Linked DNA regions of Homo sapiens: regions 2, 3, 4, 5, 6 and 7 are each linked to region 1. The links come from fine-mapping of genetic effects on gene expression. A gene starts in region 1. Each other region holds a variant in brackets. All regions are shown on one strand. Distances are from middle to middle.

What was found. PIP is the estimated chance that this variant, and not a neighbour inherited with it, causes the effect.
Region 2: its variant is the best candidate, but not a certain one, in a credible set for the expression of SNTG2 in nucleus accumbens (GTEx, PIP 0.82).
Region 3: its variant is the best candidate, but not a certain one, in a credible set for the expression of SNTG2 in prefrontal cortex (CommonMind, PIP 0.69).
Region 4: its variant is the best candidate, but not a certain one, in a credible set for the expression of SNTG2 in whole blood (TOPMed, PIP 0.85).
Region 5: its variant is the best candidate, but not a certain one, in a credible set for the expression of SNTG2 in visceral fat (GTEx, PIP 0.90).
Region 6: its variant is the best candidate, but not a certain one, in a credible set for the expression of SNTG2 in tibial nerve (GTEx, PIP 0.72).
Region 7: its variant is the best candidate, but not a certain one, in a credible set for the expression of SNTG2 in whole blood (TOPMed, PIP 0.88).

What each region holds. Positions count from the first base shown.
Region 1 is chr2:949,117-953,183 of GRCh38, reverse strand. SNTG2 (syntrophin gamma 2) reads right to left here and starts at 2,335. Exons shown (of 17, transcript NM_018968.4): 1 at 2,116-2,335. The coding sequence starts at 2,187. SNTG2-AS1 (SNTG2 antisense RNA 1) reads left to right here and starts at 1,792. Exons shown (of 3, transcript NR_136151.1): 1 at 1,792-1,899; 2 at 2,798-3,273; 3 at 3,383-3,550. RefSeq lists a silencer at 2,297-2,426.
Region 2 is chr2:859,685-863,751 of GRCh38, reverse strand. The region is part of intron 1 of LINC01115 (long intergenic non-protein coding RNA 1115); the gene reads left to right. Among named protein-coding and RNA genes, the nearest start is that of LINC01115, 6.7 kb to the left of the region's middle. The variant G/A (reference allele first, on the strand shown) is at 1,818.
Region 3 is chr2:1,211,144-1,215,210 of GRCh38, reverse strand. All of the region lies in intron 9 of SNTG2 (syntrophin gamma 2), which reads right to left. Among named protein-coding and RNA genes, the nearest start is that of TPO, 200 kb to the left of the region's middle. The variant T/C (reference allele first, on the strand shown) is at 2,052.
Region 4 is chr2:1,122,235-1,126,301 of GRCh38, reverse strand. The region is part of intron 4 of SNTG2 (syntrophin gamma 2); the gene reads right to left. Among named protein-coding and RNA genes, the nearest start is that of SNTG2-AS1, 170 kb to the right of the region's middle. The variant C/T (reference allele first, on the strand shown) is at 2,359.
Region 5 is chr2:1,050,867-1,054,933 of GRCh38, reverse strand. The region is part of intron 1 of SNTG2 (syntrophin gamma 2); the gene reads right to left. Among named protein-coding and RNA genes, the nearest start is that of SNTG2-AS1, 100 kb to the right of the region's middle. The variant G/T (reference allele first, on the strand shown) is at 1,936.
Region 6 is chr2:770,167-774,233 of GRCh38, reverse strand. The region is part of intron 3 of LOC105373480 (a long non-coding RNA gene); the gene reads right to left. Among named protein-coding and RNA genes, the nearest start is that of TMEM18, 95 kb to the right of the region's middle. The variant G/A (reference allele first, on the strand shown) is at 2,464.
Region 7 is chr2:982,652-986,718 of GRCh38, reverse strand. The region is part of intron 1 of SNTG2 (syntrophin gamma 2); the gene reads right to left. Among named protein-coding and RNA genes, the nearest start is that of SNTG2-AS1, 33 kb to the right of the region's middle. The variant A/G (reference allele first, on the strand shown) is at 2,431.

The sequences.
Region 1 (4,067 bases):
AAAAAACATCGGGAACAGGCACTTGAAAGGGGAAACAAAACAGGTCTGTTACCGAACAGGAGACCTTCAAACGTGGCCAAATTCCATGATTCAAACAAGCAGTCATGATAAAGAATGTGTATAGTTTTGACTTCAGATAGAAAAAATATAACTAGAAATATAAGATTTAGAAAAGACTTTCATCTTTTTCTAGTTAAAAGCACCAAGTTCTCTTAACTGAAATGATTAAATAATTACACAAGTTGAATAATATTGTGCAGTTATGGTAAGAAAATAATTCTGCCATTAAGTAAGGATGACATTGTATACTAAGAACATTCATGTTTTCAAGACAAACCTGCCAACACCAATACTTAACAGATTCGTTTTAAATACATAAGAATCTGAGCTAACATGACCATGCACTGGTGTCTAAGGTAGGCTTAGCACATACCTAATTACTTATGACTGCAAAGTTAGGAGTCTTGCTCTTAAAATGCTCCATCTTATTGTAATACTTGGCCTCCAACGCTAAAAAAAAAGTTTCTTTCAATACAATTCAGACAGGCTGTTTCAAATAATCAAGGTCCTTATTAGAAAGAAAGCGCCAATCACATCTTGTAGCAAACAGGTGAGCAGAGGCCACTCTTGACTGGAAAACATCAAATTTAGCACCTTAATTAATACTGAGCGCAAAGGAGAGCATTTACTAGAATACGCGCAGTTGCTTTATTTGTTGACGTTATTGCCAATAACTCATCAAGTGGGTCAATCATGAAGTATGATGAATCCACTTCAACGCTTCCGCTATAATTACAATGATTAAAAGCAAGAATTGCTTTGCTCGAATGTCTGGAGAAAAATGCACAATCCCTAACCGTGGGAGGGCATCATTATAAAGCTGAAGGCAGTGACCAGACGGAAAGCCTGTGATTCCACAGCGCCTGCAGTTTTTACTGCGGTTTATTTCCAGGTAATCCCCGCATATTTTCTCGGGTTTGATTACCATGGGCAACAGTGGGATAGCTATTCATATTACAAAGTACTTCAAGAAACGAACACCCACATTTTACATGAAATTTAATTTTCATATTTTGTAGTAAAAGCCCAGAAAGGTGCTACTTGAATGAAGATGCACCTGTCTCTACATAGAAATCTTTTTAACATCACAGTAGCGACGACCACAGTCCTAGTTTAGAATCATTATTATGACGATAGGAATTTGTAGCAGCCCTCAACCCGTGGCCTTCTGAACCGTCTCTCCACTGTCCTATAAGGGAGGGCTAACTGTATTCCTGGTCGCTCCTGGGACTGGGAGCTCCTGGGGAAGGAATCCTAAAGGAGTGGTTGTCAATGCATTTTCATTAACAGCCGCGCTTCTCGGCAGCCTCCTAGGGCTGGGGTGGCCACGTGCTCCCTTAAACTGTTTTCACAACTCGAGGCTGTGCTGTGGGTGGCAACTTGAAGGTTTCCAAGAACTTTTCGTTTTTCTTTGGGCCAACATTTCTGTTTTCTGTCAATCAATAGTTTAGTTATTTAAAAATAAGAAGGTGAAGAGGGAGTTATTTAGGGTGGGAACCAGAATAGACTTCAAAAAAGAAATCCGTATTACCCAGTTGGCGTCCCAGCGGTTCCCCGAATGGCCTAGAGCCCCCAGCACCTGCCGAGGCCGCGCCATGCACCTGGCTGGGCTCAAACTGGCCAACTCAGACCTGGCCTGGGCGCCCGAAGGCTGCAGGGGGGACGCTCCGGTCCGAGCCACCGCCTGGGCCCGAAAGAGCCGCTCCTGGGAAGCAATGCCGGGCCAATCTCAAATCCCAAATTCTGGAAAGCACTACTTCCCACGCAGTAAAGGGAAGCCCGGGCGCCTCAAAACCAAACCTTGGAAGACGCTGGAGGAGCAAAGCCTGCAAGTTTCCAGTAAGACACTGGGCTGGAGGGAGCAGAGCGGCCAGGGGGCGGGTGCCCACTGCGTCCCGGGGCTCCGGCGCCCACCCTCCGGCCAGCCGTCCCCGGAGACAGGGAAGGGGTCGCGGGGAGCGAGGGGGCGTGGAGGGAGGAGGGGCGGGGGGAGAAGGGCGCGAAGGAGAGGGAAGGGGGGCCGGAGGTGAAGGGGCGCTGAGGGGCCGCACTCACCCGCGCAGGTACCAGCAGGCAGCCCTGGCGTCCGCGGGAGGCGGCCGGGGGCGGGGGTCCCTCGGTGCCCATCGCCGCCCCTGCGGCTGGGTCCGCGCTCCGGGCCGGCCGAGCTCAACGCCAGGACCCCGTCCGAGCCTCCCAGGGCCCCGCCAGGCGCCGCGTCCGCGCCCGCGCCCCTCTGCCGGCTCCGGCTCGGGCTCCACCGGGGCGCAGGGCTGGGGAACCGGAGCTCCGCCCGCCGACCCGGAGCACCGCCCACGCAGACCCGCCCCGGGCGAGGGAGGGGCCGGGCGCGCACCCGCGGGGAGGGCGGCGAGCGGGGATCAGCCGAAGTCGGGAGAGGGGCGCTTCCACGGGGCGGGAAACTGGCGCGCGACTCTGGGGGAAGTGCAGGATGGGGGGACAGGGGCGCTCCCGCGGGGGTGGATGGGGGACCATAGCGGGGCTGGCGGGGCAGGGGCCGGCGCACGAGGCTGGAGGAGGGGAGCGCGCGCTTCTACCCGGGCTGGGTCGCCGAGGTCCGCGGCGCATCGTGGCGGCGGTGGGCGGAGGGGGGCGGGGGGCACCTCTTCTCCCTTGTGGCGCAGGTGGGCGCGCTCTGGACCGGCTTGACGACCCCTCCCCGCCGCCCCACCTCCCTGGCCAAAGGTTCTCAGCTTCTAATCAGGGACATTTCTAGTCCACAGCCTCGAAGCCATGGGTTCTCCCCGGCCCTCTGAAGCCGCCACACCTGTGCCAGCCGGCCGCGTCCTCAGACCTTTCCCCGCGGAGTCTTCCCAGCACTTGGAGACGCAGCGCAGGGCCCCGAGGACGGCCTGGCCCGGAGAAAAGATACCGAAGCTCCAACTTTCCCCAACCCCGCTCCCCTCCTCCTTCCACCCTCCCTTCCCGCCCCCAAAGCTCGGGGGTCCTATCCCTCCTCCGGTCCGCGGAGTCTCCCGAACCCTGCGGGGACCCGGCGCTCGGCGGTGCCCTCCTGGGGCGCACGGGGCTGGGGCGGGAGCGAGGAGACCAGGTGGGGAGGGGACCCCAGATCTCAGACGCCAGGGGAGACGGCGTTTCCCGCTGTTCATTCAGGTTTGTGCCAAAAGGAGCCTCACAGATGCAGTATTGGGTTTGGTAGACTCAAATCGTCTTGTTTTAATGTAAATGAAAGTAAGTTTAGGATAAATTCCAGTGCGGCGGGGGCAGGCAAGGCTACCCACATTTTTTAAAAAGAAGCCAGCCCGTATTTTTCTCCCTTTCCAAATCCTCCGCCCCCCAGTCCTTCGACCCAGGCACGAGCGCCCATCGCGGAGGCCACGATGCCCGTTTTATTCCCTCTCCACGGCAAGGAAAAGCAGCGAAATCTGAGGTCTTCAGAGGTTAACCCTATCTAGGAGCAGAATGTGACGCATTGTAAACAAATAAATATTGAAAACTCGATGTTAAACACTTTACTTTTTCTGACTCCGACTTGCTTGACCCCTGAGCAGACCTGGGTTTCGAACACAGACGCCCTTCCCCATTTCTCTATTCTCTGTATTCCTGTTTCACCTTCACGGCAGTCTGCCAGCACTTCTTAGCACTCAGTTTAACCAGAGGACAAGCTCTTGAATAGCAAAAACCAGGTCTTTTTATACGTGGCACAGTGGCTGTTACAAAATATGCTTCTTGGGTGAATTGGTAAAAAATATTGTATTACTTTTTATTTGTAGCAAAACCTAGAATAAGAAAAAGTACAAGAGATTATTGTTTGCCTTTAAATTGCATTTTTAAAAGAGCGTGCATATAATCTCTGAGAAATTAAATGTCTACAAATAGCACAAAGATATTGTCTCATTACCTTGCAAAGGGACATTCTATTCCAGGGCCTGAAGAAGGAAAAACAGCGTGTTGCATGCATAAATGTTGACTTTGAGAGACAAGTTTTTGTTAAAATTTTATCGTTAAATGAATAGACACATATA
Region 2 (4,067 bases), 89 kb after region 1:
CCTCTCCTCTGCTGCAGTGGTCTCACACAGCCTGATCCACCTCTCTTCTCCACTGCAGTGGTCTCACACAGCCTGATCCACCTCTCCACTGCAGTGGTCTCACACAGCCTGATCCACCTCTCTCCTCTGCTGCAGTGATCTCGCATAAGCCTGGTCCACTTAGTGGTCTCGTGTAGCCTAGTGCACTTGACTGGCTTGGTCCAATTTCTCTTGAACAATGGGAAATTTCCAAAGGGTTTTGTGATGATTAACCCTGACCTGAGTAGGAATGGCTCTTATCCACATTTGCAGTAAAGGGACCTGATGCTCCCAGAGGTTAAATGAAGGCAAAGCTCAGGTTCATGACCTGGTGACCAGCTCTGCAACTGCCCTGAAACAGGGCAGGTAGCCCAGGTGAAGTGCAGTCATTTCTAAGATGAGGGAGTGGGGTTTGAAAGTTTGAAAGATCCTGTTTGTTGGCAAACCATCTGGCATGCCTGGAGCAGGAGCACCCTGGCCACCCCGAGCTCCTTTCTTGAGGCCTTTGATGGAGTTGGAGCTCTGAGATGCAGGAGCTGTGTTGTGTGGAAAAGTCGGAAGGTGGAGTTCCCTTCTGCTGTTGAACAACTGGGTCCTGGTGTCCGTAGGAGAGGAGAAAGGAAGCAAAGGGACAAGTGGCAGGAAGGAAAGAGAAGGTGGAGGGAGGAAGGAAGGAATCGAGGGAGGGAGGGAGGTGGAGGGCTGGGGAGGTGTGGGCCTCTGCACCTGCACTGTGTTGAGTTATATTCAACAGGTGTTTACTGAGACCCTGTCTCCCCAGGCACTCATCACCACTGAAGCATCCTTGGCCACCAGTGGCTGTGGTGGGGTGGGGACGCCTTTGCAGGCTGGATGCTCGAGGCCGCTGTCCCCCTGGGAGTGGACGTTGGGGGAGACTCCTCAGAGGATGTTCCCTTTGGCTGAAGCTTTGAGGGATAGATGGGGTGCAGACGGCAGAGTTACCTTATTCCCAAAGGGTACTGGGGACTTTGTGACAAACTCTACAGCAGAAGAAACATGGGGAGAACATCCAAAGAGAGTGGCATCGCTCCATCCCTGTATCGCTCGGGTGTTGAAACACGGAGAAGGGCTCTTCCTGGAGGCTGGGATGCCAGGTCATTGCCCACCTGAGTCGCACGCCCTTTTTATAAAACCCCGTTCAGTGGATCAGTGGAGCACAGTGACCACACCGCACTGCCTGTGCAGGAGCCGGCCTGAAAATGGCATCCTGGAAGAAAGAACACAGGAGACGCTTTCACATGGGGAGTGTGACTGCAGAGAACGAGGGTGCCGGTCCTGCTATCGGCATCAGGGGAGGCAGGTGCGGGCTGCAGCGCACTTCCTCCCACCATCAGCAACGCGAATGGTTTGATTTCTTTCCGTCTACACGTCTGTGGCTCTCAGCATCCTTGGGGATTTCAGAACGCATCCAGGGTTTCACACTTGGAGGAAAGCCCAGCATTTTCTCGTGGGTTTCCGTGCACCCGCTGTCTCGGCTGATGTCCTGGCCCTCATCAGTTATGTCAGCGTGTGGGTGAGACACACAGCTGCCTGCATGCCTGGCTTGGAGAGCATTTAAGTGTCTCAAACTCCCATTCAGTGCTTGGGATGTTGGAGGAGAGGAAACCTGAGAATCCAGGGAGCTGGCCCCTCAGTAACAGTGGGAAGAACACGCCCGGGGGTGGGAGAAGGGAGGTTCAGCAGCCGCCACTGCGAGGAGTGGAAGCCGAGAAGGGGGAGGCGTGGGGGGTGTGAAGGGGCTGATGTCTCGGAGAACTCTGGGAGGGGCTTGAGCACTC[G/A]AGTGGCACAATTCAAACCACACTTAACGTTCACTCACCTGGGTTCCTGCGCGCGTGTGTGTAGGAAACAGAGACCCTCAGGGAGGCTCCACCTGGTCCAGGTAGCTGTGAGGAGGGTGCCCTGGGCTGGTGGAGCCATGAGGCGGGCTGGATCGGGGGATTGTCTGAATGAAGCAGTCAATGGCACCTGCAGGTGGGGTGTGCAGGGAAAGTCGTATTTTTTTTTTTTTTTTTTTTTTTGCACCTGAGCGATTGGTCCCATGCTGGTGCCATTTGGAGACGCTTTTCCCAGGAAGGAGTGAGGTTTGTTGAGTTACAGGTGACAATCCAGGCTCCTCCAGCGTTCTGAGCGTGGCATAAAGATGCCGGTTTCTTTTACATGTGCATGTTAATTTCTATCGTTCAGGTTCTTCGTTGCTTCTCTCTCAAGAGAGCGCAGGAATGCACAGACATTCCTGTAAATGTTTGGACATGTGAGTGTACCAAGCTAGCGCAAATCTTTAAACAACTAATTTTGAGGGAAAATTTGAACAAAAACCTCACCAATCTGAAATTCAATGGGGGAAGTATTGAAAACTCTCTAATTGCATCTGAAATTTTGCCATATAAGTGATTGTTATGTGACCTGAGTAACAAAAAGGGAAATGGAAAACCATGTTTTCATTTCTGCCCTGAGGAATAAGGTGGGGGGCTGAGGAATAAGGTGGGGGCTGAGGAATAAGGTGGGGGCTGAGGAATAAGGTGGGGGCTGAGGAATAAGGTGGGGGCTGAGGAATAAGGTGGGGGCTGAGGAATAAGGGGGGGGCTGAGGAATAAGGGGGGGGCTGAGGAATAAGGTGGGGGCTGAGGAATAAGGTGGGGGCTGAGGAATGGGGGGGCTGAGGAATAAGGTGGGGGCTGAGGAATGGGGGGGCTGAGGAATAAGGTGGGGGGCTGAGGAATAAGGTGGGGGCTGAGGAATAAGGTGGGGGCTGAGGAATAAGGTGGGGGCTGAGGAATAAGGTGGGGGCTGAGGAATAAGGTGGGGGGCTGAGGAATAAGGTGGGGGCTCCAGTAACTGATGATGGGACTCTCAGAACCCCCACGTGCCCCCTTTTAGGGAAATGTTGTTTCTAATGGAATCTCAGGACTGTTGAAGTTTCTTGGGTCTCCTGTAACAGGTAAGGAAACAAGTCCCTAAGGGATGAGCACTCCGCAGGTGCTTGGGGATGCTTGGCGACGCCTGGTGGCACTGTGCGTCAGATGTGGTCAGTGGTCCCAGACACATCAATGAACAATCGTGCTCCTGCCCCAGAGCCGGGGGCTGGTGTGGAGGGGGCAGGTGAGCAGGGGACCTTGAGGGCCAGAGGAACGGTCCAGTGCCATGGAGGGGAGAGGGTGGAGGGTGTGGGTGGGGGTCCAGGGGAGAGGGTGGGTGCAGGCTGCAAAGGTGCAGTGCTGTGAAGGAGAGGCTTCTGGCAGAGACAGGCGCTGGGGAAGGCCGGCATTAGGGTGCAGTGTGGAGACAGCTCCTCCGGGAGGGAGGACGCCTTTCTAAAGGGGCAGCTCCTGGAACTTCACTTTGTACAAATGTTCAGTCAGTTCTGATGTCGAGGTTTTGGACTGCGAGACCTTCCAATGTTTCTCAACATTTAGATCCCTATTTTTTTTTCTTTGTAACAAGATTCTCATCTTATAAATTTTTCCCATTGATTTTGAAAACCCTCAACTATTTAGCTATTCCTGTTAGAATTGATATCAGGATTCCGTTACTCAGAGCTTCATTCCTGCAGCATTTTGAAAGAACATTCATGACAAAAAGCAATGGGTCAATACCTTTTTATTGTTTTGGGGAAAAGTGTTTCTTCATGAAGGTCCATGGCTCTCTCAGGATCCCTTAAAGGTGGCGTTTTGGGCGATTTTTCCTCTTGTTGGCACATTTCTAAGCCAGAGCAGCTGGAGGCAGCACAGTCCGTCCGGCTCCCGGTGAGGGAATAAACAGCCTGACTCAGGTGTAGGCCACAGGGGCAGTGAAATCACAGCCAGTGTAGACGGTGCGCTTAAAGATGTTATGTTGACTGTGCCTGTGCTGTGAGCGTTGGATTTTTAAATCCAGATAAAATTGAGTTTTTTTTTCTCTCCCAAATGTATGGGAATTCGATCCAACTCACAGTGGCAGTGGAAGGATCTCTTTTCAAATGCTTCTGTCTGTTTCACGGGAAGATATTTAAGTGGGAGATGACAGGCTCGTGGGCGCTTTGAGAGCTACAC
Region 3 (4,067 bases), 260 kb before region 1:
AACCTTACAAGAAACAAAAATTACAGGCCAATATCCTTGATGAACATACGTGCAAACATCTTCATCAAAATACTAGTTACCTGAATTCAATAGCACATTAAAAAGATCAGTCACCATGATCAAGTGGGATTCATGCCTTGGATGCAAGCATGGTTCAACACATGCAAAATCAATAAATCTAATTCACCATATTAACAAAATGAAAGACAAAAACCATAACATTGTAGCAATAGATGCAGAAAAACATTTGACAAAATTCATTATCCTTTCATCATCAAAGCTCTCAACAAATTAGGTATGAAGGGAATGTACTTCAACACAATAAAGAACACGTGTGACAAGCCCACGTCTAATATCATACTTAATGATGAAAAGCTGAAAGGTTTTCCCTTAAAATCCAGAACAAGATAAATATGTGCACTCTCACCACATCTATACAACATAGTACTGGAAGTGCTAACAAGAACAATTATGAAAAAGAAATAAAACACATCTAAATAGAAAAGGAAGAAGTGAAATTGTCTCTGTTTGCTGATGACATAAGCTTATATATAGAAAACTCTAAAGACTCAAAAAAACTGTTAGACTTAATAAAGGAATTTAGAAAATTTGCAGGATACAAAACAACACTCAGAAATCAGTAGTATTTTGTTCACTAACAATGAACTATACAAAAAAGAAATTAATAAAACAATCCCATTTACAGTAGTATAAAAATATAAAATACCTAGGAGTAAATTTAACGAAAGAGATGAAAGATCTGTACAATGAAAAATATACATTGATAAAGGAAATTATAGATGACACACAAAAATGGAAAGATATCCTGCATTCATGGATTGGAAGAGTTAATGTTGTTTAGATACCATACTACTTAAAATGATATACAAAATTCTATGAAGTCTCTATCAAATTCCAATGATATTTTTCAAAGAAATAGAAAACACAATCCTAAAATGTATATGGAACCATAAAACACTCTGAATATCCAAACTATCTTGAGCATAAAAAGCAAAGATGGAGGCATCACACTACCTGATTTCAAAACATATTATAAAGCTATAATAATCAAAACAGCAAGGCACAAGCATAAACACAGGTACATTGGCCAATGGAACAGAATAAAAAGCCAGAAATAAACCCACAGATCTATGGTCAATTGATTTCAACAAAAGTGCCAGGAACATATCATGAGGAAATGACAGTCTCTTCCATATATGGTGTTCAGAGAACTGGATATCCACATGTGGGAGAATGAAACCAGAAGCTTATCTCACACCATATGCAAAAATCAAAATGGATTAAGGAGTTAAATGTAAGACCTGAAACTATAAAACTACTAAAAGAAAACATAGGGAAAAGCTCCACGACTTTTATTTGGTTAATGATTTCTTGAATATGACCCAAAAGCACAGGTGACAGAAGAAACAATATCTTTGTGAGGTTTGCATGTTTGCTCTGTGTCTGTCTGCATGGGTTTTTCTAAGCACTCTGGTTTCCTCCCCACAAAGACATGCAGGTAAGGTTAATTGCTGTGTCCAAATGGTCCCAGGCTGAGTGGCTGTGGGCATGTGTGAGCCATCCTGCAGTGGGATGGCATCCTGTCCAGGGCTGTTGCCCAGCTTGAGCCCTGAGCTTCCAGCACAGACTCCAGTCTCCCCAACCCTGAATGAAATAATTGGGCAAATAATTATCTTACTTGTTTTTATTAATCTTTCTTAAATGTATGCAAAGCTCATATTTATTTCAATGTTTAATATTTGAAGTGTTTTGGTCTTTATTTAGAAGTTTGGTGATATTTTGTGACCAAAAATATGCTGTAAGAATCTAACTCTTATTTATAGCTATTAGCCTATGGGAAAATTGGTTTCTTTATACATCTTTTCACTCCAAGTTGCAGTTTCTGAGGACCAATCAATGATGTTAAGTGAGTAAGTACTGTATTGTATATTTCAAAATTGCTAAAAGAGTAGATTTTAAATATTTTCACTACAAAAATGCTAAGCATGTGATGTTACTGACATGCCAAGTAGCTTGATTTAATTATTCCA[T/C]AATGCAAACATGTATTGAAACATAACATTGTACATTAATTATATATGATTATTATTTGTCAATTTTTAGAAAGGACCCAGAAGGTAGTGGTTATAGATTGAGGTCCTATACTTGGACAAGGACAGAGTCAGAGGGGACACCCACAGGATGCTGGCTTCCAACCTCTTCATCCTATTTATGTTTCCATTATATGATATCTAAAGGTTCCTCCTGGGCTACAGCTTACAGCTTTTGTTTTAAGATTCTAAAACCTGTTTGATTTAGAATTGACAATTTCTAAACTTATTCCTTACCCTCCTTAGACTGAGGAGCCCTCAGGAGAAGATACACAGGAATTTTAGAACTCCATCCACTGGGATCAACACACCCAAGTCTCTTCTCTTTTTCATCCATTTAAAATGAGACCTGAGGAGCTTACAGGTAAGGTGGAGCTAAGAACAGCATCTCAGCCTCTAAATGGGACTTTGCACAAATATGTTTCAGAACAAACAGGTTTTATAAAATTCATAGCTTAAGCCCTTATGCGTTTTATTATTTGCCCTTTCCTGCCCATACTAAATCTTGCTTAAAAATCATAAAACAGTCAGCAAGCTAGTAAGACATATTTGCCTTTATAAAACAAAATATTCTTGTCTTATGAAAAATTATAAACCTTTCAGTTTGCTGTTACAGTGTGTATTGGTCCGTTCTTGCACTGCTGTAAAGAAATACCTGAGAATGGGTAATTTATAAAGAAAAGAGGCTTAACCAGCTCACAGTTCTGTAGTCTACATAGGAAGCATGGCAGCTTCTGCTTCTAGGAAAGCCTCAGGAAACTTCCAATCATGGTGGAAGGCAGAAGGTGAGCGAGACACCTTACATGGTAGGAGCAGGAGCAAGAGAAAGAGAGAGAGTGGGGAGGTGCCACACAGTTTTAAATGACCAGATATCAGGAGAACCCACTCACTGTCAGAAGCACAGCACCAAGGGAGATTTTGCTAACCCATTCATGAGAATCTGCCCCATGATCTAATCCCACCAGGCCCCACCTCCAACACTGGGGAATACATTTCCACATGAGGTTTGGGTGGGGACACAGATCCAAACCAAATCAGTGTGTGATAGCTTTTGTAACAGAAACAATCTGAGGCTCAGGCAGTCGGCTGACTTCTTGGGTTCCATTTCATTCTCCTGGATGTCATGTATTTATCCCAATGATTGTGGTATGAATGGCTTAGTGGGTCAAAATATTTTGTCACCAAGAATAACACATGTGTTTCTACATGTTCTCAAGCTGCCAGAATGGGTTATCAAGTCTGCATTTAGTTAAGAATTACTAGTGATATGGTTTGGTTGTACTCTTGCCCAAATCTCATCTTGAATTGTAGCTCCCATAATTCCCACGTGTCATGGGAGGGACCTGGTGGGAGGTAATTGAATCATGGGGGTGGGTTTTTTCCATGCTGTTCTCATGGTAGTGAATAAGAATCACGAGATCTGATGGTTTTATAAAGGGCAGTTTCCCTGCACACATGCTCTTCCCTGCCGCCATGTAAGACATGCCTTTGCTCCTCCTTTGCCTTCTGACATGATTGTGAGGCCTCCCCAGTCATGTAGAACTGTGAGTCCATTAAACCTCTTTTTCTTTATAAATTACCCAGTCTCAGGTTTTTCTACACAGTAGTATGAAAATGGACTAATACAAGTAGAGACCCTATCCTGTCCTCAGAGTAGGAGACATTTCCATCTTATGACCTGAATTCATCCTTAAACCAAAGCTAGAACAGCCAATCTTCATCACATTCAATGGCAGATGGGCTAGGAAGTGTGTAATGAAGTTCAGTGGCTCTATTTTTCTAAAAACCCATTTAATTCAAATACGCTAATAGACAAATGTCATTTCATGCACTATTTCCCTCTTTGTCAAGAGAGATACATGCCCAGATCTCTACTTTGTTCCCAAATTAACCCCAAACCAAAGAAACATGTTGTAAGAAAGCCACAAGCACACACTTTAAAAGGAATTCACAGTTAGA
Region 4 (4,067 bases), 170 kb before region 1:
GGCAGAGTGGGTGAACCTGTAGGACATTACTTTAAGTGAAGTCAGCCAGGCCCAGGAAGTTAAACACTGCATGTTCTCACTCATATGCGGAAGCTGGTCTCATAGAACTAAGGAGTAGAATAGAGGTTACTAGATGTTGGGAAGGGGAGGAGGTAAGAGAGATGTGGAGAGATTTTTTTAAGGATACACAGTTACAGCTAGATAGGAGGAATACTTCTAGTGTTCTATAGCACTGTAGAATAATGATAGTTAGCAATAATATATTGTTTATTTTCAAATGGCTAGAAGAGAGCATATTGAATATTCCCAACACAAAGAAATAATAAATGTTGGAGATGATGAATATGATAATTATCCTGATCTGAGCACTATAAATTGTATGTATTGAAGCATCATTATGTACCCCATAAATATGTACAATTATGTGTTAATTAAAAAAAACACAGCTTCACCCTATCCCTGTACACCACACCCTACTGTCTACTTCTGTCATTCATTCTATCATCATATCCTGTTCTGAAATTTACTAACTGATCTAATGTGTTACTTTTTGCCCCAAGAGAGAAAAAGTTTCTCAATTGAGAATAAATTAAGCAAAACACACATCAAAATTAAAACAGCTGACATGTATTTACTGTAAATCTTTAATTGTAAATCTTTAAGAAAAGTAGCATGTCCATCTAAAGTATGCTTTCCTTCTGTGATTTATATTTACAATAACTCATCTTAGAAAACAATTCTGTTTTGGAGGTATGGTAGTTATTAAGGGTTTTGAATGACTAACACCAAGATATTAGAAGAAAGCAGCAAACTTCAAACCTAAGGATACAAATAAAAATATGCACAAATGCATGGGTGCTTTGAAGGCAAAGGAAGGGAGGGAGAGGGAAGAAGCAAGAGGAGGACAGGAGGAAGGGACAGAGGAGAGGAAAACTCAGCTTCCTGTTACACACTCTTGATTTAAAAAAGGACAAAAAATCTCTACTTTGATAATAAAGTTCATAAATGAAGAAATGAAGTTTTAATATTATGAAATAAATATGCTATGCAAGAAATCTCTCGAGCAGCCAGACTTTAGTAGCTATTTATAGTAACTGAATATTTAGCGTATTAAAATGAAGACTTTTAAATAAAAAGTTTTATTTAACATAATTTGAAGGTTAATGCTGGTGTTGATTCAAATTGTGAATGTCCTGTGGGTGTCCAGTAGATTTTTGTTACTATTAATAATAACAGTATGTCTAAGGCATACAAAAAGATGTTATAGATAGTAAAATGGTTACTATAGTGAAGCAAATTAACATATCCATCATCTCACCTGATTACCCATATTTTTGTTTTGTTTTGTTTTGTGTGTGTCAAGAGCAGCTAAAATGTAGCAGGAATCCCCAACACGGTATGATTGTGTGACCTTCAGTCCTCATGCTGAGCACTGGACCTCTCAACTCGCTCGCCTACTTGTGCACGGCTTTGCATCCTCTGACCTCCAGCTCCTCATTCCTCCCCACCACCATCTCCTCACTTCTGGTGACCACTGTATTATTCTCCTTCTCTGCGTGTTTGACCTTTTCGTCAGGTTCCACCCATAAGTGAGGTCATGTGGTATTTCCCTTTAATGTCTGGCTTGTTTCCCCTGGCATAGCGTCCTCCAGGTTCAACCCTGTTGTGACAAAGGGCAGGACCTCCTCCTTCTTTAAGACTGAGTAGGCCGGGCGCGGTGGCTCACGCCTGTAATCCCAGCATTTTGGGAGGCTAAGGTGGGAGGATCATGAGGTCAAGAGATCGAGACCATCCTGGTTAACACAATGAAACCCCGTCTCTACTAAAAATACAAAAAAAATTAGCCGGGCGTGGTGGCGAGCACCTGTAGTCCCAGCTACTCAGGAGGCTGAGGCAGGAGAATGGCATGAACCTGGGAAGCAGAGCTTGTAGTGAGCTGAGATCGCACCACTGCACTCCAGCCTGGGCAACAAAGCAAGCCTCTGTCTGAGAAAAATTAAAAAAAGACTGAGTAATATTCCACCCTATATATTTTCAAATTGTAATTGACAATTTATAATCATATAAACTTACAGGGTAAAAATAATGTTATGATTTATGAATGCAATATGGGATAATGAAAGCAAGCTGGTTAACATATCTATGACCTCAAATACTTCACATGTTTTTATAATGAAAACAAGATAATTTTCTTAGCAATTCTGAAATGTACAATAATCTATTAAAAAGCTATCTTTGCCACACTGTGCAATAGAACTTAAAAAAAATTCTTCCTGCACAACTGAGAGTCTGTGCCCTCTGACCGTCATCTCCCCATTCTCCAATCCCCAGCTTCTGTGACCATCATTCTACTCTCTG[C/T]TTCCATGAGTTCAATTGTTTTAGATTCCACATATAAGTGAGAGCATGTGGCGCTTGTCTTTCTGTATCTGCCTTGCCCATTTTTAATTGGTTTACTTGTTCTATTAACCTGAATGAATTCTTCATAAATTTTGAATATTAACCTCTTATCAGATACATGTTTTGCAAATATACTTTCCCAATCCATAGGCTGCTGGTCTTGTTTGCTGTGCAGGAACTTCAGTTTGATGTAGTCCAATTTATCTATTTGTGCTTTTGTAGTCTGAGGTTGTGGTGTGACAGCCAAGAAATTATTGCCAAGGCCAATATCAACGAGCTCTTCTCCAACGTTCTCTTCTAGGAGTTTTATGGCTTCTGATCTTACAGTTAAGACTTTCATCCATTTTTGGTAGGTTTCCTATACGGTGTAAGACAAGAGTCCAATTTCACTCTTTCACATGTGGAAGTCCAGTTTTCCCAGCAACATTTATTGAAAAGACTATACATTCTCCATTGTATCCTCCTGATGCCCTTAGTCCAAAATTAGTTGAGCATGTACGTTTAGTTTTACTTCTGGGCTTTCTATTCTGCTCCACTGGTGTAGGTGTCTGTTTTTTATACCAACACCATACTGTTTTGATTACTATAGTAATATAATCTAAATCAGAAAGTGTGATGCCTCCAACTTTTTTTTTCTTAGAACTGTTTGGCCATTCAGGGTCTTTTGTGATTCCATATGAATATTTGAATTGTTTTTTCTGTTTCTGTGAAAAATGTCATTGGGATTTTGATAAGGATTACACTGAATCTATATATAACTTTGGCTCATAGATATTTTAGCAATATTAATTATGATGAGCCCAGACATGAGCCCAAAATATCTTTCCATTTATTGGTATCTTCTTCAATGTTTTGAATTGTCTTCATCAATATTTTACAGTTTTCATTGTATAGGTCTTTTATCTCCTTGGTTATACTTATTGCTAAATATTTTATTTTTTTCTGATGCTTGCATTAATAAATGGGATTGTTTTGATTTCTTTTTCAGCTATTATTTGTGTATGACAATGCTATTAATTTTTGCATATGAATTTCATATCCTGAAACTTTACTGAATTATTGGTTCTAACAGTTTTTCTGTGGAATCTTTGGGGTTTTTACAAATAGAATCATGCCATCTGCAAATAGATAACTTTACTTCTTCCTTTCTTATTCGGATGCCTTTTTTTTTTTTTTTTTTTTGTCTGATTGCTAATTGCAAGTACTTCCAGTGTCATGTTGAATAAAATCGGCAAGACTGGGCATCCTTGTCTTGCAGAGGATCTTAATGTTAAAGCGTTTGTTCATATTGATTATAATGCTAGCTAGGAATTTTTCATAAATAGCTTTATTGTGAACATGCTGTCTATACCTGAACTGGTGAGATTTTTTATCATAGATATTGGGCTTTGTCAAATGATTTTTCTGCATCAGTCTGTTAATGTGATGTGTCACATTGGTTAATCTGAAAATGTTAAACTGGCCTCACATGCCATGGATGAATCCTACTTGGTCATGACATGTAATCTTTCTAATGTGCTGTTGGACTTGGCTTGCTAAAGTCATTATGAGAATGTTTCTGTCATTTGTTCATCAGAAAAATTGGCCTGTAGTTTTCATTGTTAGTGACATCTTTGTTCAGCTTAGGTGTCACGGTGATGCTGGCTTTTAAAAATGTATACATAATTATT
Region 5 (4,067 bases), 100 kb before region 1:
AAAAAGCCATCACCCTGGCAATATTTTTAACTTCTAAAATGGCTAATTTTCATCTCATGTATTTCAAATGCTTAATAGTAGACCCTAATTACAATTACATTATTCTGTTTTACTTTCTTCATTTTCCCAATTTAGATTTTTCATTTGAAAATGTACCTCTTTGAAAATCCAAAAATACATCAACATTAACTTCAGATAATATTAACAAGTGATATTCTGATCCAAGGTCTGGGGAAAAGACTTCATTAGCATGGGGCTTAATTATGCTATTGCTGTGTACCCTGGGGTGTCTCAGGAATGTGTCACCTCCAGGGGGTCCCAGAATCACCAAGGCGGCTCTGTGGGGTTCACAGGGATATTACTGAGACCTTCTCTAACATCTCTAGCCATGTAGGACTGCATCCTAAACCTGCTAGGAAGAGTGACAAAACCACAGTAGGAGCTTGGGATTTCCTTTCAGGAATCCTTCAAACTCAGTCAAATAGAGAGCCATACTGAAAATCCCCGAAGCCCTCTACGTAAACCCCTCATTAGAGTTAGATAATTAAAAATGCTAGATCCTAGAAGAATTAACCAATTCCTTGGCACGAAGAAGAGTGAACTCCTGGTGCCGTGAAGATGCTCCAGCCACAGCCCAGGTGTGGGCCGCCTCTCTTGGGTGGGAACGGCTGAGGTCTGACGCTTAGGGATGCAGGAGAAAGGGCCAATTTCCACCACCTGACAAGGTGGCAGAACACCCCCGAGCCGCACCACGGGAAACAACCAAAGGTTCAGGTCCGCCCGTCTGAATCAGGGTGGCAATGACACGGGTCCGCAGTGCCCCAGCAGACATGTGCAGGTGGCAGGCGTGGTGCCTGTCATGCTGGTGCAGCACTTAGAGGGCTGCACAAACAACAAGGCCAAGACATGCAGGTTAAATCCCTGTAATCCTGCACCTCACAGGGCCTGCAGAGGGAGGAGGGAACACGAGGTCTCCCACTCATATGGAAGCAAGAGGGGGGCGGGAGGGAGGAGAGGAGGGGACAAAGGGAGGGAGGGAGGAAGGGAGAAGAGGAGGTGAGAAGGAGGGACCATGGAAACAGAATTACCTGAAAGGGAGTCATCAGCTCAGAAAAGAATGGAGGAAAGGATAAGGAAGGTGAATGCAGGTTAAAGTAATCAGAATCAATGCCACAATAAAATGCAATAAAGTCAAATGAAAACAATCAAGAACCAGAGTCACCACATGGAGGCCTAACTGCATCACACAAATGAGGTGGGAAATGATGATGTGGAGAGGACGACAGAGATGGATGCCAAATGAACACGACCTGGATACCTAGCATGTAACTCATGTTTCCAAAGTGGAAAACAATAAAAAGGCATAGAAATAATACTCCTGGAAACAATTACGTCTCCGTGAAACTGACATCTGCCATCAAGGAGACACAACTTAGCTGCAAAGGGCTGGGGGGGTGGGGGGGGATGGAGTGATACTGATCAACAGTCAACACCAGAACACATCCTCCTGGAGTAGCTAGATTTTAAGAATAAAGAAACAACAAAATTATATGTTATTAAAGTTTTCAGTAATGTAAAATTGATATTTTTGCCAAAATAACTTTCATCTTCAATAAAAAAAACTTTTAATGCATTTCTAGAATCATAGCATATAATGAAAAACTCAGGAATTAAAAATAAGCCTGCTTACCTACATTTTAGAAGCATGAACAAATCAGCATTGCACTGATCTGAAAAGCACAGTGAAGGAATGGAAGCTGACTGATGTCTGTTGAACACTGTGCTCAGCAACAGCAGAACACCCTCCTTCCTACGTGGACAAAACGCAGGGTCATAAAGAAAACCTCAAAAATCTCAAAGGACTGAAGTCAGAGTATGTTATTTTCACATATGTGGCAATGGAAAACTACCAGAAAAAGATAACAGAAAATCTCC[G/T]CTCCTGAAAAGTTTAGCAACATACTCACAAATCACCACAGATCCAGGAGGGGACTCGCAGTGGAAACTGGAACGTGTTTTGAACAGATTGTGAGCTTACGACTTTCAAAACCTGTGAAGTGCAGCTGCAACTGAATAACTTACAGCTGGAATGCATGCAGAAACTAAAGGTGAAAATCAGCGACCTCATCCCAGGGTAGGCCACCCAGCATTCAGGTCCACCGCCTGTGTCTGTAAATCAAGTTTTATTGGAACACAGCCACGGCCCTTCACCTGCTTCCACGAAAGGATGGCAGAATTGTCTATAAAGGACGACATGGCCAGTGATCCTAAGGTACCATGTGGCTTTCAAAACACTTTAGAGACCTCTGATTTCAGTTTCCAAAAGCAAAGCAAGAAAAAGGAAAGAGAATAAAGGAAATAAGAGCAGAAATACATGAAACAGAAGACAAATCAACTAATGAACAAAGCCAAAGAACAGTTCTCTGGAAGAAGTGAGAAATAAGGAGAGAACACACAGAAGCAGCCAGATGAGGAAAGGGGGAAGCCACTATGAGTCCCGCAGATATGAAAAGCACACAAGAAAATAGCAAGAATGTTTTACCTTACAGTTTGTGATTTGTGTACAAAGGATGAACTCTTTAAAACATGCAATTTGCTAAAACAGATATAATATTAAATAAAAATATAAATATTCCTGTACGTAACTTAAAAGTTGAACTTAGTATTAAAATTATTTCACAAAGTAAGCTCTGGGCCCAGTGAATTCCTCTAAATATTTCATAAATAACATGGATACTATACAAACTTTTCCACAGAATAGAAAAACAATGACTACCAGTAAACTCATTTATACAACCAACCTAAGCTGCAGACCAGAACCTAACAAGAAGGTTATAATAAAGTAAAATTACTTATCAATTACCCCCATGAATATAAATAAAAAAAATCCTAAATAAAATATTATGAAATCTAATCCAAAAAATATAAAAAGCAAAATACTTTTAAAGCAACTACAATAAAAAATGTAAGGGTAGTTTACCATTTGAAAATCAGCGTAATTCATAACATGGAAGAGTTCTCTAATGTTGTGTAATAAAATATCCAACAACCAACAGCCTCTGAATGTCAGGATTCTGTGAGAGCCCAGCTGAGTGCTTCTGGCTCCGGGTCCTGCAGAGACTGCAGCCCAGCTGCTGGGGGTGCTGCCGTCTTTGAAGGCTCAGGTGTGGCCAGCAGATCTGCTTCCAGATCGCTCCTGTGGTGGCTGCCGGAGGCTTTAGTGTTTTGCCACGTGGGCCTCTCCAATGATAGTTCACAACATGGCATATACTGGAAAGAATGATCCAGGAGGAAAAATGCTTGCCCCCAGCACAGAAACTGCAGACTTTATAGCCCAGTATCAGGAATGGCAGATCATCAGATATGCCATACACCATGACAACAGAAGCTGCCCCGAGTACAAATCAGATGGGTTGCACAGGGGAGTGAATACCAGGTGCCTTCCTCCAGGCTGGCAACCATACCATATGAGCAAAGAACTTATATGATCATTGATTAATCTCAAAAAAGTGTTGACAAATGTTGTTACCTAAAGCCTTTTAATAAGAGAGCTTCCATAACTGGTTAGAGACGTCTACAAAAGACTTACAGCACATGTCATACTCAGCGTAAAGCTTGAAAATTCCTGAGAAAAGGAATGAGCAAAGGGTGCTCAACAGCACCACTTCAATACGGCATGGTACTGCAGCTCCCAGCCAATACAATCATAAAGCAAACAGGAAGGAAGGGAGGAAGGGAGGAAGGGAGGAAAGGAAGGAGGGAGGGAGGAAGAAAGGGGGAGAGGGAGGGAGGAAGGAAATGTGTAAACATTGAAAAAATAAAACCAGCATTTTTCATAGATGATATTATTGAGCATGGAGATAATCCAAAAGTATCTACGCATGTGATATGAAAACAGATAAGCAATTAATCTTTGAAATTAATAAAAATATCAGTTTATTATGTCAATATTTTTAGTGTCTCAACATATCAGCAACAAAAAATAGTTGAAATAAAAACATGCAATTTACAGTAGCATTAAACATATCTAGAAATAAATCTAATGAAAGATGTGCAAAATTTCTGTGATA
Region 6 (4,067 bases), 180 kb after region 1:
CACCAGGCTGGGGGTCACACGGTGCCTGCTGGGTGGGTGAGCCAGGCTGGGGGACAATGTGTCTGCTGGGTGGGGCTCCATTCTAGGGGTCACAGGGTGCCTGCTGTGGGGAGGCAGGATGGGGGCCAGTGTGTCTGCTGGGTGGGGGCACCAGACTGGGGGACAGTGTGTCTGCTGGGTGGGGCTTCAAGCTGGGGGACAGTGTTCCTGCTCGGGGGGCAGCCTGGGGGACAGTGTGTCTGCTGGGTGCCAGGCTGGGGGTCACAGGGTGCCTGCTGGGTGGGGGCACCAGGCTGGGGGACAATGTGTCTGCTGGGTGGGGCACCAGGCTGGGGGACAGCGTGCCTGCTGGGTGGGGGCACCAGACTGTGGGACAGTGTGTCTGCTGGGTGGGGCTTCAAGCTGGCAGAGAGTGTTCCTGCTTGGGGGGCAGGCTGGGGGACGGCGTGTCTGCTGGGTGGGGCATCAGGCTGGGGGACAGTGCCTGCTGGGTGGGGTTCCATTCTGAGGGTCACAGGGTGCCTGCTGGGGGGAAACAGGATGGGAGCCAGTGTGTCTGCTGGGTGGGGGCACCAGACTGGGGGAGAGGATGCCTGCTAGGTGGGGGCGCCAGGCCTGGGGGACAGGGTACCTGCTGGGGGGGCACTGGCACCAGGCTGTGGGCATGGGAGCCCGTGTTCACACCAGGTACACGCCTCACGCTCCACCAGCAGTTGGCCCTCTTCACATGTGTTTCTTCCTTCAAAAGACAATTATTAACTAAAGTGCTGGAGATAAGAGGTGAGCCAGACACCCCAAGACCCATCCTTTCATGCAAGTGTGGTGTGGACAAACCCCAACGAAACTCTCAGAGTGACAATGAGCACAGGCAGCAGGAACATCCAAGGCTGCACACAGTCTCCTCGGACAGAAGCCCTTGGAAGCCACACATTTGTCTAATTAAGAGGATGACATTGTTGTCTTTAACCCAACAGTGCGGGAGCACAGAAGCTGCCTGTTTGTGCACTGACTGTGTGAGCACGTGTGTGCTGCAGCCGGGGATTTTCACTTGGATGCTCCCTCAGCAGTTTCCTCCAAGGTACTCAGATGCATTCACCATTTAAGAAAATGATTTTTTTCTACATTTTTTCATAAGTGAAGGAAATTCCACATAGGGCCTGAGCTGATGGTTAACACAGTTCTAATCACCATGCGTGGTTGACCTGGGACGGGCCACATCTTTCTCAGATGTTGACACCGTTCACTCATTTAGTGCTCTTACCACCATCTCTGAAGTAACACGGTGCCCTTTTTGGGCTGATAAAACTCAAACAGAAGATGTACTCTGCCCAGGATCACAGACGGTAATAACAGAGTCAGGAATTCAACCTCTTCTGGAATTAAAAACCTGTGGTTCTTCTGGTTATATTTTAGATCAAAGTAAGCAGCGTTGGAGGCCTGAAATGCAGCGACTGACCACGGTCTCACAGATCCCACACCATCAGCCCCTCTTCTCTTAAGGACCGTGATATACAAAGAGTGGGGTTTTAGGGAATGTCACTCCTAAAGTGTCCATTCAGCTTTTAGAGATATTTGCCCCCACACGGGTTAATGAAGTCAAATGGCATAAATTAGCTGCCCGGAGCCTTGGCCGGCCCACACTGCGGTGGGAACCTGAGGCAGCACCCGGTCCCACAGCACCAGCTGGTGTCCTGGGTGGTCACCCTCCATTGTCCAGACCCAGCTCCTGGGCCCCCGCTCTGAATTTCCTTGCTGTGTCCCGTTTACGCCTTTCTTCCCTCCTGCTTTTCTTCTTAATTCAGTGCCGGGTCCAGGGCATTGCTGTCCTTTGGGAAATGGGGTGGTTTATGCTCTAGGGTTCCATGAACTGCTTCTCACCTGTTGTTGGTGGCCGTGTCTCAGGGCCTTGGATAAAATGCAGAGTCCTCGAATTCACGTGCTATTTCTCGCCGGTTTCTCTTCAAATGATTCTTTCCCTGCCATTTTCCATATATTCTGTGTATACATCCTAACACGTGAAATTCCAGAATTTACCCTCCGTCTCAGACACTCTTTAACTTTCACACACCATCTCGTTTTCTAGTCAGACTTCCAGAAACAAATTGGTGTTGACCTACCATTAAATTAAATATCTAAATAGCAGACCCACAATTTTCATGGATAATTTCATATGAGACTATTAAATAGTTAAATTAATTCAGTTTAAAGATGAATATTGGATAACTAGGAATATGCCAGGTGTACAAGGAAGACAACGTTGTGAAGATCCTTAAATGCTGAAGGCCTGACAGTTGCTGAGCAGCAGGCACCTCTCTGAGCTGGCTCATGGTCTGGGTCTCCAGAAAAGCCACCCTGACCCTGCGGCCTCAGAGGTGATCTCCCCAGCCTACCCCGAGCGAAGCAGCTCTGGTGGGCTCACTTGCATGGCTGGCTGCACTCACCCTCACTGGTGAATCCGACACC[G/A]GGTCACCTGTCCACCCAGGAGCCCGTGTGGCTGTGGAGCCGGGCTGGGCGTTATGCTCACTTGCACGGCTGGCTGCACTCACCCTCACTGGTGACTCTGACACCAGGTCACCTGTCTACCCAGGAGCCCGTGTGGCTGTGGAGCCGGGCTGGGCGTTATGCTCAGAGCAGCCTGTGTAGGGCTGCTTTGACTTCTCAGGAGGTCATTGGTCAACTTTCCCATGCACTGTTGATGGAGGGTCTGTGTCGCGTCAGCTGCTGAGCTGGGCTCCATCCTCGGTATGTTAGAGAGCAACACGGAGAAGCTGCCCTGTGTGGATTTGAGAAGACACTACCCTGAATAGATAGGCACAGCAGGAGATGCATGAGAAATAGACTTTGGAGTCCATTCTTGGAAAGGGTATTTAATCCCCACCTCTTTTTCCCATGGATGAGAATGGGTCCCGCCCTGGAGTCCTGGGAAGGGCAGAACACAGGACCCTGGGCTCTGGGCAGATGGACAGACAGCAGGTTATTAATCACAGCCCTGGGCAGGAGCACTGCAGACCACCTGAGGGTGCCTCGGGAGCCGTGTGAAGAGACAGGGCCTCGGGAGGCAGGCTTGGTAGTAACAAGACGGGGAGGCAATGCCTGGCTCCTGAAGAATGATGGAATTGACTGACTTGAACAGTTTTGCCAGCCGGCCAGGAGCTGAATGAGGCTCTCTGCTCAGGTGGAGCTGGTGCCTGGTCCCTGGGAGGAGGGGGGCATTTGTCTATGGGGTCTCACCCAAGGGAGCAGAGTGTGGAGGGGACAGTGGCAAGGTCATTTGGGGCCTCTTGATTTCCCCTGATGCCAAAGCTCACATAATATTGAACCTTAATCTTAGATCTTAGAAAACCATGTGACTGAAGCCTTGGGGGCTAGCTGAGTTCTCCAGGGAATGAATGGAGTTGGCCTGTGCACAGCACAGATGTACACTGTGCAGGTCCCTTACATGTCTGTTTTCTACCTGCTCCACCACCTCTGAATCAGCCATACTGACCTCTCCTCTCCCACAGCACAGATGTATGCTGAGCAGGTCCCTTACACACCTGTTTCTACCTGCTCTACCACCTCTGAAACAGCCACATTGACCCCTCTTCTCCCCCCTCCTCCTCAGCCTGCTCAACAGGAAGACAAGAATGAAGACCTTTATATGGTCTACCTCCACTTAATGAATGGTGAATGTACTTTCTCTTCCTTATGGTTTCCTGAATATCATTTTCTTTTCTCCACCTTCCTTCTTTGGGAGAATACAGTAGATAATGCATAGAACATAGAAAATATGTCTTCATCAGCTTTTTATGTTGTCAGTAAGACTTTGGTCAACAGTAGGCTATTCATAGTTACATTTTGGGGAAACAAAAAGTTATATGTGGATTTTCAACTGTGTGAAGGCTCAGCACCCCTAAGCCCCAAGTTATTCAAGGGTCAACAGTATAATTATCATCCCAAGAGTTTTTGGAAGTTTCACAACTTTAGCCTATCTGATATCTGTGGAGCCCCTCTGTTCCAGACTGGAGCTCTAGATATTGTGGGGGAGAAAGTGTGCTCTTTGTTATTTTATAAAAGGTACTCAGAGA
Region 7 (4,067 bases), 34 kb before region 1:
TATTTAAGGTAGAAAAAAATGTTCCACTTGCTAAGAAAGCAATCTTGCCTAGACATTTCACAGAATCTCCGATAGTCTTTAAGGAGGTAGAGGCTATTAAATACAATGTGAGCATCAGGCTCAGCCACTGGTATGCCGATCCTTCTTAGGGGATCCTGAGCTGTCCAGAAGGTTCCAAATGTGTCTTATCTGAAATCTTCCCTTTTTAACTAACCATGACAACCTCATTCACAACATCTGTCCATTCCTACATGGGAAGTCCTATTTAGGTAAATCAGCATTATCTGTTAGTCTAGTTCAACTCACGTCAAGGGGCATTTTTTCAAATGTTAAAAATGAAAACAGAAACCTGATTCCAGGTGAGATTTTCTCTTCTCTAAAGGGTAAAGTTACCTTTGTCATTGCATCCCAAACAACCCTGGTAGAGCGTGTGAGAAGGAGGTCTGGGAGGCCACCCCAGGGGCCACAACTCTGCTCAGGCCATGAGAGTACAGGGGCCATCCCGGCCATGTCCCCAAATGAGCTGCCTGTGCTCAGTGCTTCCCCAGCCCCCCATGCAAGACTGTGTGAAAGGAAAATTGATACTCAGCACATGGGAAATCCTCTGATCTCTCTCTCTCTCTCTCTCTCTCTCTCTCTCTCTCTCTCTCTATTATTTGCAGGGAATGTATTTTTCCCTGTAAATAGTAAAAAGAAATAAATAAAATACAAATCCCTCTCCCCTCTTCCTTTCTGAGCTTTGCTTCTCAGAAAAATAAAATAAAAATAGGTTGGGTCTCCAAACACAGTACTTTTCTTCCACATATTGTCTCTTTCTTGTCCATGAAACTGTGATAACACTTGGCTGTCTCAATATTAATCATTCTTGCAATAAAATTAAAGTTAAGAGGATTCACGTGATAAAGGAGAAACATTTACGCCAACTGAAAGCAGCTAGGATAAAAAGCCAACCAGCGTCGGCTTCCTTTAGGTGAAACTGCTCTCAGACGGTCCTATCAGAAGACGGGTTACTTACCAACTTGTGTAGGCAAGAATACCATAAAATCAACCACAGAGAATGCTAGATTTCTGACTGAAGGCCTGAGATATCAGTTTACCAGCATCTGTTTCTCTCTGAAAATTATCCTGTGCATATCCCCCAAAGTTAAAAAGCAAAATGGCCTTGGTTTGAGGATTAGATCCTCCCAGGGTGTCTCTGCCTGGCCCAGCAGAGGGGGAGCTGGGGAGCTGCAGGCCCTCTTATTCCTAGCAGGGCCCCTCAGCTTAATTTGAGGGTCTGGTTTTTCCACTTCCTAGGAAAGAAAAAAGACACATCCCTGAGCTCACACAAACCCTTCTATTTTAGAGGAAGAAAATATCTTAATTACAGAAGTTGCTCTAGCATGAAACGTTTTCTCACCAGTTTCTAAATTTGCCAAAAAAAAAAATCAACTTGTCTTTCTGTTTAATGGCTGCAGGCACATGCATTTCCGTCGCTTTTCTTTGATGGAACCCGATATAAATTCAGCAGGAAAAGCTCTTCCTGGAGGGGAGTCCGTGCTGTTTTCTTTAGGAGGGAGTGGCGTGTGGTCTGCAGAAGCCACATTATGTCTAAGAATGAGAGTGATATATATTTGCTTTTCAGGCAACACTTGATGATCGGATTTTGTCTTCACAAATTGAGGTGATTGTTTTTGGGGAAAAAAATGGACATATAATATGCTTCTGCACAGAAAAACTCCCCCAGCAAATTGTGCAGCCTAGAACTGTCTTTTCTAGTGTTACTGAAGAAAACTATGTAAAAGAAACAAATAGGTTCATGTCAATCCTTGTTAAATTCTGATTGATAATAAAACTTCTACTGTGCCCCAATAAAATAAGCATTAGACTTGAAGACCTAAGGTCTGGGTTCAGGAACTGAGAAGTGGGTGCTTCCCTCCCCGTGGAGCTGACGCAGCACCTGGACGTCTGTTACCCTCGTCTTCCCCGCTGAGAACACACTGACTTCTTTAGCACTGTCCTGAGTCACGGAGCTAAGGCAGTGCCCTCATGGAGGCCGCTGATGATGGCAGGATGTGCCAAGTGAAGGAGCAATTTCAGGACGGCAGGGCCACAGCTGACCTCATGGCGCTCAGGACAGACAGGTGAGGCCACAGAGTGGGGAACCAGAAGCAGTCAGAGTGCACCAAAGGGACCAGGGAGGACGAGAGGGGATGGGAGAGGGTAGATGGCATTTAGCAGAGAGCAAGGAAGCACCGAGTATCTTCTACCCAGCAAACAGCACAGAGCTCCTGCTTGGACCGTGGAGAAATGAGTGAAATGAAAAAGCCTCATGCTGGAAGATTTGAGCCTCCTTCCCTTGGTAGAAGAAACACGCACTTCCCATTTCCATCACCAACCAGAGAGGAGATTTTGCCCTTTGTTTTCATTTTATCTTAATTAACTGCATGA[A/G]AGTGTGCTATTAAAAAAAAAAAAAAAAAGCTTTGTTTCTTTTGGGTAAAAGTGGGAAGGCTGTTCGAAATAAGTGAGGCTTATTTTTCTTCTCCAAAAGTGCATCTGGTTTGTACAAGAACCCCAGGGTAAAGTGTGATTCAATAGCGTCACCTCTGCAATGCCAAGCAGCCGAGGGATGTGTGGCTCACAGAGCTCCTGCCACCTGGCCCCTCAGCAATGGGGCAGCTTGGTGCCACCGCCCCTCTCTGCAGCCCTTCAACAAAGGGGTGTGCCCACAGCTCTTTCAGACACAGTCTGGCCTCCTCTTGACACTGACCCTCAGGGACACAGGGACACAGACATCTCAGAGGCCATGCTGTGTGGAGCCCGACTTCTCCCAAGTGGCAATGGCCAGGTGAGTTCTGCACCCACCTCTGCCCTCTGAACACCCTCATCCCTCCTCCCATTCCTCAGTGATTCTCCAGGCTCCATGGTGGAGGGTGCCCACAAGTGAGAAGTATGTCTTGATCTTTTAATCTCCCTCTACTCAATATATTCTGGACCAATTTCTAAGAAAACTGGTACCTACAACACTTTAAATCCAACCAGGGACATGAATCAAGACTGAAGGTCAGCGTACACTTAGGAGCTCAGAGTTCATCCTGGGGCAACGGGAGCCACTGAGTGCAGAACAGGAGAAGGGCAGGTGGGCTGGAGGCTGCAAACACGATTCTGGCCCCAGGGCGGAGAGTGACTATTTCGGAGGGTTAGATCTGGGACACCTGCTTCGCAGCCCCCCTGAAAGTCATGCAGGAGGCACCAAGTTGGGCAGGAAGGGTGGGAGGCAGCACCTGATTAAATCAGAGCGTGATGATAGATGGGGCAGCCTGACCACCACCTCTGCAGCTTCTGCTAAAGAGCCTCTGCTTCATCCCGACCTCCACCTCTGCAACTTCTTCATCCCGACTTCCACCTCTGCAGCTTCTTCATCCTGACCACCACCTCCGCAGCTTCTATGGAAGAGAGCCTCTGCTTCATCCCAACCTCCACCTCTGCAACTTCTTCATCCCAACCTCCACCTCTGCAGCTTCTGCATCCTGACCACCACCTCTGCAGCTTCTGCTAAAAAGCCTCTGCTTCATCACGACCTCCACCTCCGCAGCTTCTTCATCCTGACCACCACTTCCACAACTTCTACAGAAGAGAGCCTCTGCTTCATCCCAACCTCCACCTCTGCAACTTCTTCATCCTGACACCACCTCTGCAGCTTCTTCATCCTGACATCACCTCTGCAGCTTCTTCATCCTGACCACCACCCCTGCAGCTTCTGCTTCATCCTGACCACTACCTCCGCAGCTTCTATGGAAGAGAGCCTCTGCTTCATCCTGACCATTTGTTGCACAGATTCCCCCTCCTTGGGATGGGGTTTTAGTGTCTCACAGTTTCCTCCAGGCACAGTCTCTGCACCTTGGGACTTCCATTCTAGGCGAGGCTCAGTTACAAAGTGACCAAGTCCACAATCAGTGTTGAATGAGGGCCACGGTCAATACTAACCCGAGGTGCTGAGTGAGCACAAGAGAAGAGATAGCTGCCCAGGCACAGTGACAGGGGCCCTGCCCACGGGAGTCCTGTCCACGCTGCTTCTTTCAGAAACC